2 separate regions of the Homo sapiens genome follow, and region 2 is linked to region 1. Evidence: fine-mapped expression QTL. Tissue or cell type: tibial artery. Region 1 holds a variant in brackets; the other region holds the start of a gene. All regions are shown on one strand. Distances are from middle to middle.

What was found. PIP is the estimated chance that this variant, and not a neighbour inherited with it, causes the effect.
Region 2: it holds the start of ANKRD50, and the variant in region 1 is fine-mapped to the expression of ANKRD50 in tibial artery (GTEx, PIP above 0.99). The same link has a PIP of 0.9 or more in coronary artery and subcutaneous fat.

What each region holds. Positions count from the first base shown.
Region 1 is chr4:124,792,954-124,798,342 of GRCh38, forward strand. No RefSeq gene overlaps it. Among named protein-coding and RNA genes, the nearest start is that of ANKRD50, 83 kb to the left of the region's middle. The variant G/C (reference allele first, on the strand shown) is at 2,933.
Region 2 is chr4:124,710,487-124,715,875 of GRCh38, forward strand. ANKRD50 (ankyrin repeat domain containing 50) reads right to left here and starts at 2,246. Exons shown (of 5, transcript NM_020337.3): 1 at 1,972-2,246; 2 at 1-788. The coding sequence starts at 25. RefSeq lists enhancers at 1,654-2,219, 2,220-2,785 and silencers at 1,733-1,972, 2,123-2,502.

The DNA.
Region 1 (5,389 bases):
GATTCATTGAGTTTTTTTAAAAAACTTTGGTTTTTCATGTCTCTATCTCCTTCAGTTCTACTCTGATCTTGATTATTTCTTGTCTTTTGCTAGCTTTGGGATTTGTTTGCTCTTGGTTCTCTAGTTCTTTTAGTTGTGATATTAGGATGTTAATTTGAGATCTTTCTAGCTTTTTGACGTGGGCATTTAGTGCTATAAATTTCCCTCTTAGTACTGTTTTAGCTGTGTCCCAGAGATTCTGGGTTTCCTTGTTCTCATTGGTTTCAAAGAACTTCTTGATTTCTGTCTTAATTTTATTATTTTCCCAGGAGTCATTCAGGAGCAGGTTGTTCAATTTCCATGTAGTTTTGTGATTTTGAGTGAGTTTGTTCATCTTGAGATCTAATTTGATTGTGCTGTGGACTGAGAGACTTTTATGATTTAAGTTCTTTTGCATTTGCTGAAGACTGTTTTACTTCCAATTATGTGATTGATTTTAGAGTAAGTATCATGTGGAGCCGAGAAGAATGTATACTCTGTTGTTTTTGCATAGAGACTTCTCTACATAGCTAGCAGGTCACTTGATCCAGTGCTGAGTTTAGGTCCTGAATATTTTTGTTAATTTTCTGTCTTGACTATCTGTCTCATATTGACAGTGGGGTGTTTAAGTCTCCCACTATTATTGTGTGGAAGTAGCAAAATAAACCATCATCAAAGTGAACAGAAACCTAGAGAATGGGAGAAAAGTTTTGCAATGTATCCATCTGACAAAGGTCTAATATCCAGAATCTACAAGAAACTTAAATAAATTGACAAGAAAAAAACAACCCCATTAAAAAGTAGGCCAAATACATGAACACACACTTCTCAAAAGAAGACATTTATGTGGCCAACAAACATACAAAAAAAAAGCTCAACATCACTGATCATTAGAGAAAAGCCAATCAAAACCACAATGAGATACCATCTCACATGAGTCAGAATGGTGATCATTAAAAAGTCAAGAAACAACACATGCTGGTGAAGCTGTGAAGAAATAGGAACACTTTTACATTGGTGGTGGTTATATAAATTAGTTCAACCACTATGGAAGGCATTGTGGTGATTCCTCAAAGACCTAGAACCAGAAATGTCATTTGACCCAGCAATCTCATTACTGGGTATATACCCAAAGGAATATATTACTCTAAAGATACACGCACACATATGTTCATTGCAGCACTATTCACAACAGCAAAGATAAGGAATCAGCCCAAATTCCCATCAATGGAAGACTGAATAAAGAAAATATGGTACATATACACCATGGAATTCTATGCAGCCATAAAAAGGAATGAGATTATATCCTATGCAAGGACATGGATGGAGCTGGAAGCCGTTATTCTCAGCAAACTAACACAGGAACAGAAACTCAAACAGCACATTTTCTCACTTATATGTGGGATCTGATCAATAAGAACACATGGACACAGGGAGGGGAACAACACACACTGGGACCTGTCATGTTGTCTGGGCGGCAAGGTAGGGAGAACATTAGGGAAAAGAGCTAATGCATGCTGCGATTAAGTACCTAGGTGATGGGTCAATAGGTGCAGCAAACCACCATGGCACATATTTACCTGCGTAACAAATCTGCACATCCTGTACATGTATTCCAGAACTTAAAAAAGAAATATGGTGCTTTTTAATGTGCTACCTTTTTTAAAGGAGAAATATTATTTGACTTGTTTGTCTTTTATACTTTAGTCTCATTTTCCGTTATATGGTACAGAAATGATAGGTGGTCCCTTCATTTTAAGGGAGTGATACAGAATGTTCCTCATGCCACTGAGTGATTAAAGCTCCAAAAGCATAATTGCCTTCATGAGAGCCTAATCTCTAGGTGAATCAGTTATGGCCCATTGTAAAAGATGCTTTTTTCCTCTCTGATAAAAGAACACAAAAGGAAGCCATCTGTGTTTTGATTTTCCCAGTACATTTATTACTCGGTCAGCTTTGGTCACCCTTATTAAGTGTAGTGATTTGCTAGCCGTTGACACAATCTTCTTTTTACATTGTGGGTGCTGCACCCTCTTCTATATCTAAAATTGTATCAATATGAAAATACAAATGTGTTCCCTCCTTGGAAATTATTGAATAATAATAATAGAGTTACATAAGTCTGTCCAGATCTTCACTGAATTATGTCAAAACAATGTCTGTGGTATTTTTTTCAAAGCACAACTTATGAAATATTTCATAAAAAGCAAACCAAACTGTTTCCAAAAAACTCACTATTTCCCAAGCCCTATTCTATAATAAATATATTGTAAAGGCATTCAGATGAAGAGGAAATGCTTTTCTCGAAAGCGTCCTTCAGCAAATGGGAAAAAGAAATATTTCTTTTTTTGTGTGTATATATGATCTTTTCTAGCATATTCACAGTATTCTAGATACAATTGGTATTTCTATTATTCCCTCTGTCTCCTCAATTTAAAATAATTATCTAGAAAGCAGTATTCTCTTTTCATAAAATTGTCATTTATTTCAAACTCATTCTGAGTTGTTGGTAAGTTCAGATCTTTTCAAGAAATATTTATTAAATGCCTTTATTTTTGTACCAGGTATTACTTTCAAGGTATTCAGGATGCATTACAAAGATGTGATCTCTGTCCTTACTATCTAAAAAGCATTTAATTAAATATTTAAAAGTTATTATTCTGAACATCTTGCAAATCAAGCTCTCGAAATATTTGACTTATTTGCTGTAGTTTTGTAATTTTCAAATAGGAGTGAAGGAGCTTTTAAAAATTGATAATTGACTAATTTTTAAAGTAGAGATTTAGCAGAAATAAAACTATCCTTGTGTTTAAATCCCATTTCAAGCAATTTAGCAATGACTCAACCGTCCCAAGCAAAGGCTAAATATTTCTCCTTGACAGTTAAGGATTTTTAACTGGAATATCCAAATTTA[G/C]AAAGAAAAATAGTGCCAAATAGCACAGTTCTGAACACTGAGCAGATGCTCCATAAATAATTGTTGAAGCTGACTGCAAATAATTCCCTCTTAAGTTTATAAGAAGACTTTTCCCCAATATGGTCCCAACAACTGTGTTTTACCTCTTCTATCATCTGCCTTACTTGGCTACAACCATTACTATCATACAAGCATATACTTAAAATTAGGGGGTTTTCAAAGACTGAAGACACTCCCAATAAAAGCCCAAATGTAAGACTGAGGCATGAATTATTTACATCTTCCAATTAGTATATTTATAACACATCCTTAGATGTGTCTATATTAACTATGATTTATGAAATAAATTTCATATCATTAGATTTGTTCTTTTGTAAAAGTAAATACATTTAACATGATTTCATATGGTTAAAAAAAGACATACCAATATAGTCAATAAATGAAGTGAATTTATATTCCATTTTAGCTCAATTTTATTAAATTAGATACTTTGCATTTAACAAAATTAGTATGACTAATATTTTCATCAAATTTGTTTCTACTTTTTTTGCTAAATTATTTCCATAAATTTCTTATAAAAAATCTCACTCATGAAATGTGTAGGATTTCATTGTAACACCATTAAAAATTTTCAAAAAAAGAATACTGTGAAGAAAATTTCAAATAAGAATTCTCAGTTATTTGTAAATGTCAATGTCATTGGAATATGTGCTGAGTGTCCTGAAGTCATAAATGAAGGTAGGCTGTGTGGGGTCCTGTGCGTGTGTATTGAGTTTTATTTACCTTGAGTTTTATTGTTTATGGATAAATAAAAGAAAGCTTTAAAAAAAAACCCTTTGATTTCCAACCTGAAATTTGGATGATGGGAAATACTAATATTATTTTTTAAAAGTAAACCATTTAAACAACTCTTTCTTTATGAAATGGTAACTAATGTTTATCGTGTGTCAGTTATGTCAATGATCCTATTGTAGTGTTTGTTTTACAAATACTTTTAATAATTACAACAGGTAATTTTATCTCCATTTTACCACTCTGGTCTCAAAGTTGTATGTGTCCTCACATATTGTATGAGCAGCTAAAAGTAGTAACTGATGGAGCCATGACTGAAACTTGGGTCTTTTTGTATCTATGACCCTTTTGTTTTTTGAGGTATCCCGTGTAGTCTCTTGAAATGTAAATATATTAACAATCAACAAACATATACTTTTAATAGATCCTGGAGTCTCATCATGTGATTATATGAGCAAGTTTTTCTGAGAAGAGTAGAGTAGTGAGGACGTGAAGCAATAGGATAAGCAATACATCCTAGAATAGTCTTGTATCTATATATGATGACAATTTGTCAGCATAGCTGGAAGAAATAGAGGGCCAACAGTTAATTATATTTTGAAATTTTAACTAAAATTCTTGTTTGTCCAAAGCCAAGTTTCTTGTTGGTCCGAGTATGTAGACTTATGCTAACTTGCCTATCTTTTGTATTTAGTTTCCTTTCAAGAAAGATAATTATAAGAATAACATACCACTGAGATCATTTCCACACACATACCATCTGGGAAAATTTGTATATCAGCCTGTTTATTGCAAATGATATACCATATGTAAAAAAAACTGCTTTGAAATATACTGGGTGATTTAGCATTCACTTGGTAAAACATGATTACAGTTCATATATCATACATATATAATTCCGACTTCTATTTCTGTCAGTTTTAATCAACGATGATTTCTTCTTACTGATTGGAATTGTGTCATCTAAAACTAAAAAAGAAATTCACATTCAAAAATTCCTTTTTTCCTACATGAACTAGAATAAATATTTTAAATGTTCAGTAAAGAAGTAGGTTTTAAAATTTCTAAACTGTTTGCTAAAATTAGTCATACTTTCCAGTTTTAAATGAGGTCTGAGTTCATGTTATTTTGCCATTACATTTGAAAATATTTTTCTTAGAGTCCATCCTATTTTTCCTACAAGGAAGCACTCTCCTATTTTTCTCCCTGTTTTGCTGGAATCATTTTAAACCCCACCCCTTTAGGAACTCTCTACCCAACTTAATTAATTCCCTTTTTTACTTTTCTAATTTCTCTAGTGCTTTGCTTGAACTATACTATCAAATTATTAGAAACTATTTCTTAGTATCCTGAATAGAGAAGTAAAACATTGAAATAACTTCACCTAATTAAAATAGCTTCTTAAAGGAAGATCTTTAGGATCAAGTGGGCTAGAAGGGAACTTTGTGGGCTAAGATGTGTATTGTTAGCCTTTTGAGGACTTACTTAGTGTTCAGACTTCTTAAAATGCTGTCTATCCAGGAGATGGTCTTTAAACCAGAAAAAGATAAAAAGGTACATTGAAAGCGGGGAGACCAATGAGAAATTACTTAATGGGTACAATGTATATTATTTGGGTGATGGGAACCCTAAAACCCAGATTTCACCACTAAGCAATGTATGCAT
Region 2 (5,389 bases), 82 kb before region 1:
CTTTCTCTTCCCAAGGATTAGTCATAACGGGTTTTTTATCTTCATTTGCTAGAGTCTGGATACATCAACACAGGTCTTTCCATCCATTATGACATAACTTGTATATTAAGTTGACTCTGAAGACAGAGTAACTAGTTACAGTAAAATTCAACAGCCACAGAGTTCCTCTGTCAACAGAACGTGCATGACTTTATTTGGTTCCTTATTCTTGATCAGCAGTCTATGTATTAGTTGTTGAACTGAGGGAGAAACGCCTGATTCCACAGCTCAGCAACACTTTTCCTAAATTTTAATGAGTCACATAACTCCATGGTTATAACTGGAGTTTATGTGATTGTGGATGTTTCAAGAACAGAGATGAGACAATACATGTGGAAAACTAAAGAAAAAACCCAATCTTTCAATTTGTACAAAATGCTTCTCCAGATTCCAAGTGTTAATTCTGCATCTGACAATTAGATTCTGAAAAGAGGTCCACTGCATTAAATGGCATCAGAGAGATTACATTTATACGGTATGAGGTACAGTATGTAAGTAGCTCTGTATTTCTCGTTGAAGGATGATCACTCAAGAGTACTAGATCGTGCCAGTTTCAGGCATCTGGGCAACTGCCAGGAACTGTTTCAGATTATAGTCTCTTATGTGGCAGAAATGACAACCACTGTTAACACCTTCTTAATTCAAAGCATTCATAATATGCATTTTTCAAGACAGCAGATTCTTAATGAACCTGTTCACAGGTTTCTTGGTTTTAAGACGTCCGGGTAATCAACAATTTCCACAAGTAACTAAAATAAAACAAACAAAAATACCTCAGTGCAAAATATCATATGTTAAAAACTTATTAAGGACAATAAAGGTTGCAGTGTACCAGTTAACGTAATCTCAAAAATCCACGTACTTCACCTTTGGCACTTTCAAAAAGTTGGACAAAAACCACTGAAATAATCACATTCTCCCTTCTGCATTTTTCTTCCTCATTGTTATGCTTCCCAAACAGCCACATTTTAATCAAGTTACCCAAGATTTTTGCAACTTCACCATAGCAAAGGAGGGGGGGAGAAACTTTACGCACATACAGTAACACCCTTAACTCCAGGCAAAACGCTCATTCACAGTAGACTGGTAGAACAGCGCCAGCTAAGGAAGCTCTATTAACTTACACAGTCCAGTCAGTCAAGGACTGTCTACTCCTCCAGCCACACTTCTTTGTTGATAATGTGCAAAAATCTAGGGGAAGATTACCAGGGTTGCAGCTGGATGGGAAACGGTTTAAAAAAAAAAAACAAAAACGATGGGGGATGACTGTTCTTATAAGAATGATAAAGCAAACACAAGTAAAATGTGAATCCTTCCTTCCTCTGGGCCAAGGATGGAGGTCAGGGATAAAATCTACCAGTCTGGCCGGAGAAAAGGCTGCTAGAGAGAAATTCCTTCCAAGACAGGAAAGGGATAAAGAGTAGAGTGCTTCGGTGCTGGTGGGTGTCTGCCCACAGGTCCGGCCTCCAGTTTCAGCTGACAGACAAAAGGAACTCCGGGATTCCCAGCGCCGGGCACCACCTTGGGTTGGAACCGCCCAGAGGAGCCACAGGGGAGCCACCTCAGAGAGGCCACGAGCGAAGGTGCAGCCTCCACACCGAGGTCTGCCCTTCCAGAGGCTGGGAGCGCCTCTGCACCCCGCCCCGCACCGAGATTGGGGTGTGTCTTTTGAAGGGGGAGGGGGTGACTGAGGTCCTTGCCAATCCCAGACGAGGGGTCGCCTCCCGGTCGGCTTCCGCCTCTGCGCTCCCGCCCCATGCCCCGCTCCCGCTCCCACCCGGCCGACGGCGGTGCGAGGGAAGAGGGCAAATCTGGGGCTCGAGGCCGGAGAGGGTGGGTGGTTGGGTCAGGTCCAAGCCACGGCCTCGGCCTCCCAGCTTCCAACCCGAGGGAGGGGCCTCGCTTCCACCGCCGCCGCCGCCCCCCGGTTACCTCGGCCCCAGCCGCCGCCGTGGCCGCCGCTGCCGCTGTTAGGGACTCTCAGTCTCAGACACTTGCTTCGCTGAGAAGTCGCTGCCAGCAGCGCTCCCAAGACTCCACTCCAACTGCAGCCGCCTCCTCCGCCGGGCCCGGGGCACGCTCCCAGCTCCGGATCCTCCTCTTGGCCCCCGGCGGCTGCCAGTTCCAGCTTTCCCAGCAGAATCGGTCGTGCTCGCCCCAGCCCCCACCGGCCAACCGCCGCCGCCGCCGCCGTCAGGGCAGTAACTGTCTCAGGCAGCCCCCGGCCGGCCGGCTCCGCCCCGCCCGCCCAGCCCAGACCCCGCCCCCGCCCCCGCCCCCGCCCCGCCGCTCGGCCTTTCTTTGCCCGCCGGCTCCGCCTCCGCGTCCTTCCCCTCCCCCACCGCGCTCTCCCGCAGCATCCCGTGCCTGGGCGTGTGCGGCCGCCTGGGACCCGCTGCCGGCGCGGCGGGGAGACCTGTCTCGGGGCGGCGTGGGGGCCCCGCCTTTCTCAGGGGAGGCGGAGAACGGGGCGGGGGCTGCGTTCTCACGTCTCCGAGCTCACGCGAGTCGTTGCCCCCACCCTCCCCGTCACCACTGGGCCCTGATCCTTCCTTTGTCTTCCAGGCCGGAGGGACTCGCCGGCTGTTGGTGCCGTATCTGCTCCTGGGAGGGGCAGTTGGGTAGGGGGAGATTGCCTCTTGCCTCTCTCTGCTCAACCCTTTTGCCTCTCCCTTAACCCCGTTGCTTCCAAAGCCACTTCGGGCCCCGTTCTACCCCTCAGTCGTCCGGTCTCCTTTCAGTCCATTAAATTCCAGGGATGCTTTTACTTTGGCTGGGACGAAGAGAAGGAAGGAAAAGACTGGGAAGAATGTTGCGAAAATAGAAATAGTGGGGGTATACAGCGACATTCCTACCAGCCTCATGAAAAGGACGTGGCCTCCATCAGATGGAGGTTGACAGCAGGCTTGACTGGGTCTCAGGCCCCTGCTCCTCAGGGCCACTTGATCACCCGCAGCGTCCACTAGGGGGGAAGGTCTTGGTCATGTGGCGTCAGGAAATGCCCTAGAGGGCCTGCTCACAGGGGCCTGTTGGACTAAGCATGTCAGTTGTTTGCACTTACTGGACCTGAGTTGCTTAGATTCCAAATTTCTCCCGGGAAAATAAGTATACCGTCAACTGATGGAATAGGAAATGTAGCATTTTTTATTTTAATTGTTTATGCTAAAATCCAGAGTGCTCTATTTCCCATTCCTCATTAACTTGCATGTGGTTATTTGCCAAAATATTAAGCCAGTCTCCCATCTAGTTTTAGAAATTTCATAGTATAGCTATCACAATAAGAAAGATGGATAAACAAATAGATCGTGTTTGTGCTTACTCTTTCATATTGTTTATTCGTGCCAATTGAGGTTTACTGATCTTAGTATTTAATTTTAATTCATGTACCCTGAATTTTGGGCTTCTTTCCTAAAACACAAGCAAAAGAGGCAGAGTATAAATTCTCCAGAATTAGGGGGATGAAAATTGATTTTTAAAAAGCTACAATTTTTATTTATTTTTGCCTAAGCTGTTTTAATTCCCACTTAGCTTGTTTGCCACGCAGCTTTATAGTCATTGAACAGGTTGACTCCTTCAGTTTCATGGTTGTAAAATTTTATGTTTAGAGGAAAATTTAAATGAGAAATAATGTATATCACATTATCATTTCTATTAAGCCGTTTGCTAACACAATAATTAAAATAATTTCTGCCCAGTAGAGAAGTTACCGAAACTTTTTGTTTAGTGGGCCTCATTTATGATAACTAAGCAGTATCATGGAATGCTGTTTTAAATAACATCAGCTGTAACTAAGCTGTAATTAATCTTCAGACCTATTTAGAATTTTGTTTTTTGCTTTAAAATTTATTTCACATTTTATTTTTATTGCTTTTTGCTTTTTTTAATAGAAAACCCTTAACAGTGACGTATATGTATATATACACACATATATAATTTTATGAAACTTCTTTTTATCAATTACCTAAATGTTAAACGTGGCATAAGCAGAATACTTACTCTTGGTACATATTCACATACTTTAATCAGTTTCTTAGTTGTATTTTCTCCAATACCAGATACTCGCATTTTTCCAAAGAATGCAATTTTTTTCAATGTGGCCTTTCTTATTTTTAATTTGTTCATAAAATTTCCTGAAATCATCACAGTTTCACATAAATTTGAAATTACTGACAGCTTTAACGAATGCTTCTCTGAAGACTATAATGTTTTAAATGGAAAATTAAGTGGTGAGATACGTATTAAGCTCAAAACACACTCTGCTAAATAAAATATATTCTCCATTCTAATTTCTCTATATTGAAATGTACAAATTTTTCAGTTCAAATCTTTTCCTAGCTGTTGTATTTTTTTAAACCTCACTCAGTTATATTGTGCAACAAGTGTTTTTACAAAACAAAGCTCATTATATAAGTCTTGAAAATGTACGTTTATTTTGATGGTATCAATCAAGTTTAAATACTACAAAATTATGTCATCTCAATTTTAATCCATTTAGATACAAAATATAGTTTCATCCAATTAAAAGCAACAGCTCCATCAAAAGATTCCACAAGTTGAGATATTCCAAAGCACAATTCTAAGTTTCAAAAATTACGTCTTTTATAATGTCTGTGTTTTCATCATCGAGTACATTCAGTTCCTTGTTTGGTAGAGGTAAATTTGAATTTCTTTATATTTGCAAGTTCTGTAATAATTATAGCAATACCTGAAAGCTACAAAATTTGAAATCTATGACTTTAGAGTTCTAATGATTTTACATGAAAGGCTGTGAAAATTTAGAGGACTCATTTTAGTCCTCTAAATTAACTTGTGTAAGTCACTCAGGTTTATTTACAAAGTGATGTTTTATGCTTGGCAGTCTTTCAGGTTATGCCACAAATTTAAAGAACTCTGCATTATACAAAAAGAGTTCAGCCTACTTGCTATACTCTACTACAGGATAAGTCAGTCTCTATTTCACATATTTCAGATATACCTCACATGTAATTTTCTCCATTTACTACTGATTCTCAGAAGTGGCTTCTTGCACGTGGAAGGCAGCTGCAGCAAGCCAGGGCACACTGAACTGCTATGCCACGTGTCTAGCAGGATCAGCAGCCTTGAGAGTTTCTCTGGTTACTACCAAGCCCAGGATTTGGTATATATTATATGTATATGTATATGTATATGTATATGTATATGTATATGTATATGTATATGTATATGTATATGTATGTATATGTGTATGTGTGTATATGTATATGTTTATGTATCAACCACCCATATCAAGCTATATTTTATTTTTTCAACTAGCAGTCTGCATACTGTCCTTCAAAGGATAGTTACTTTGAATCTGGAAAAGAGTTATTAC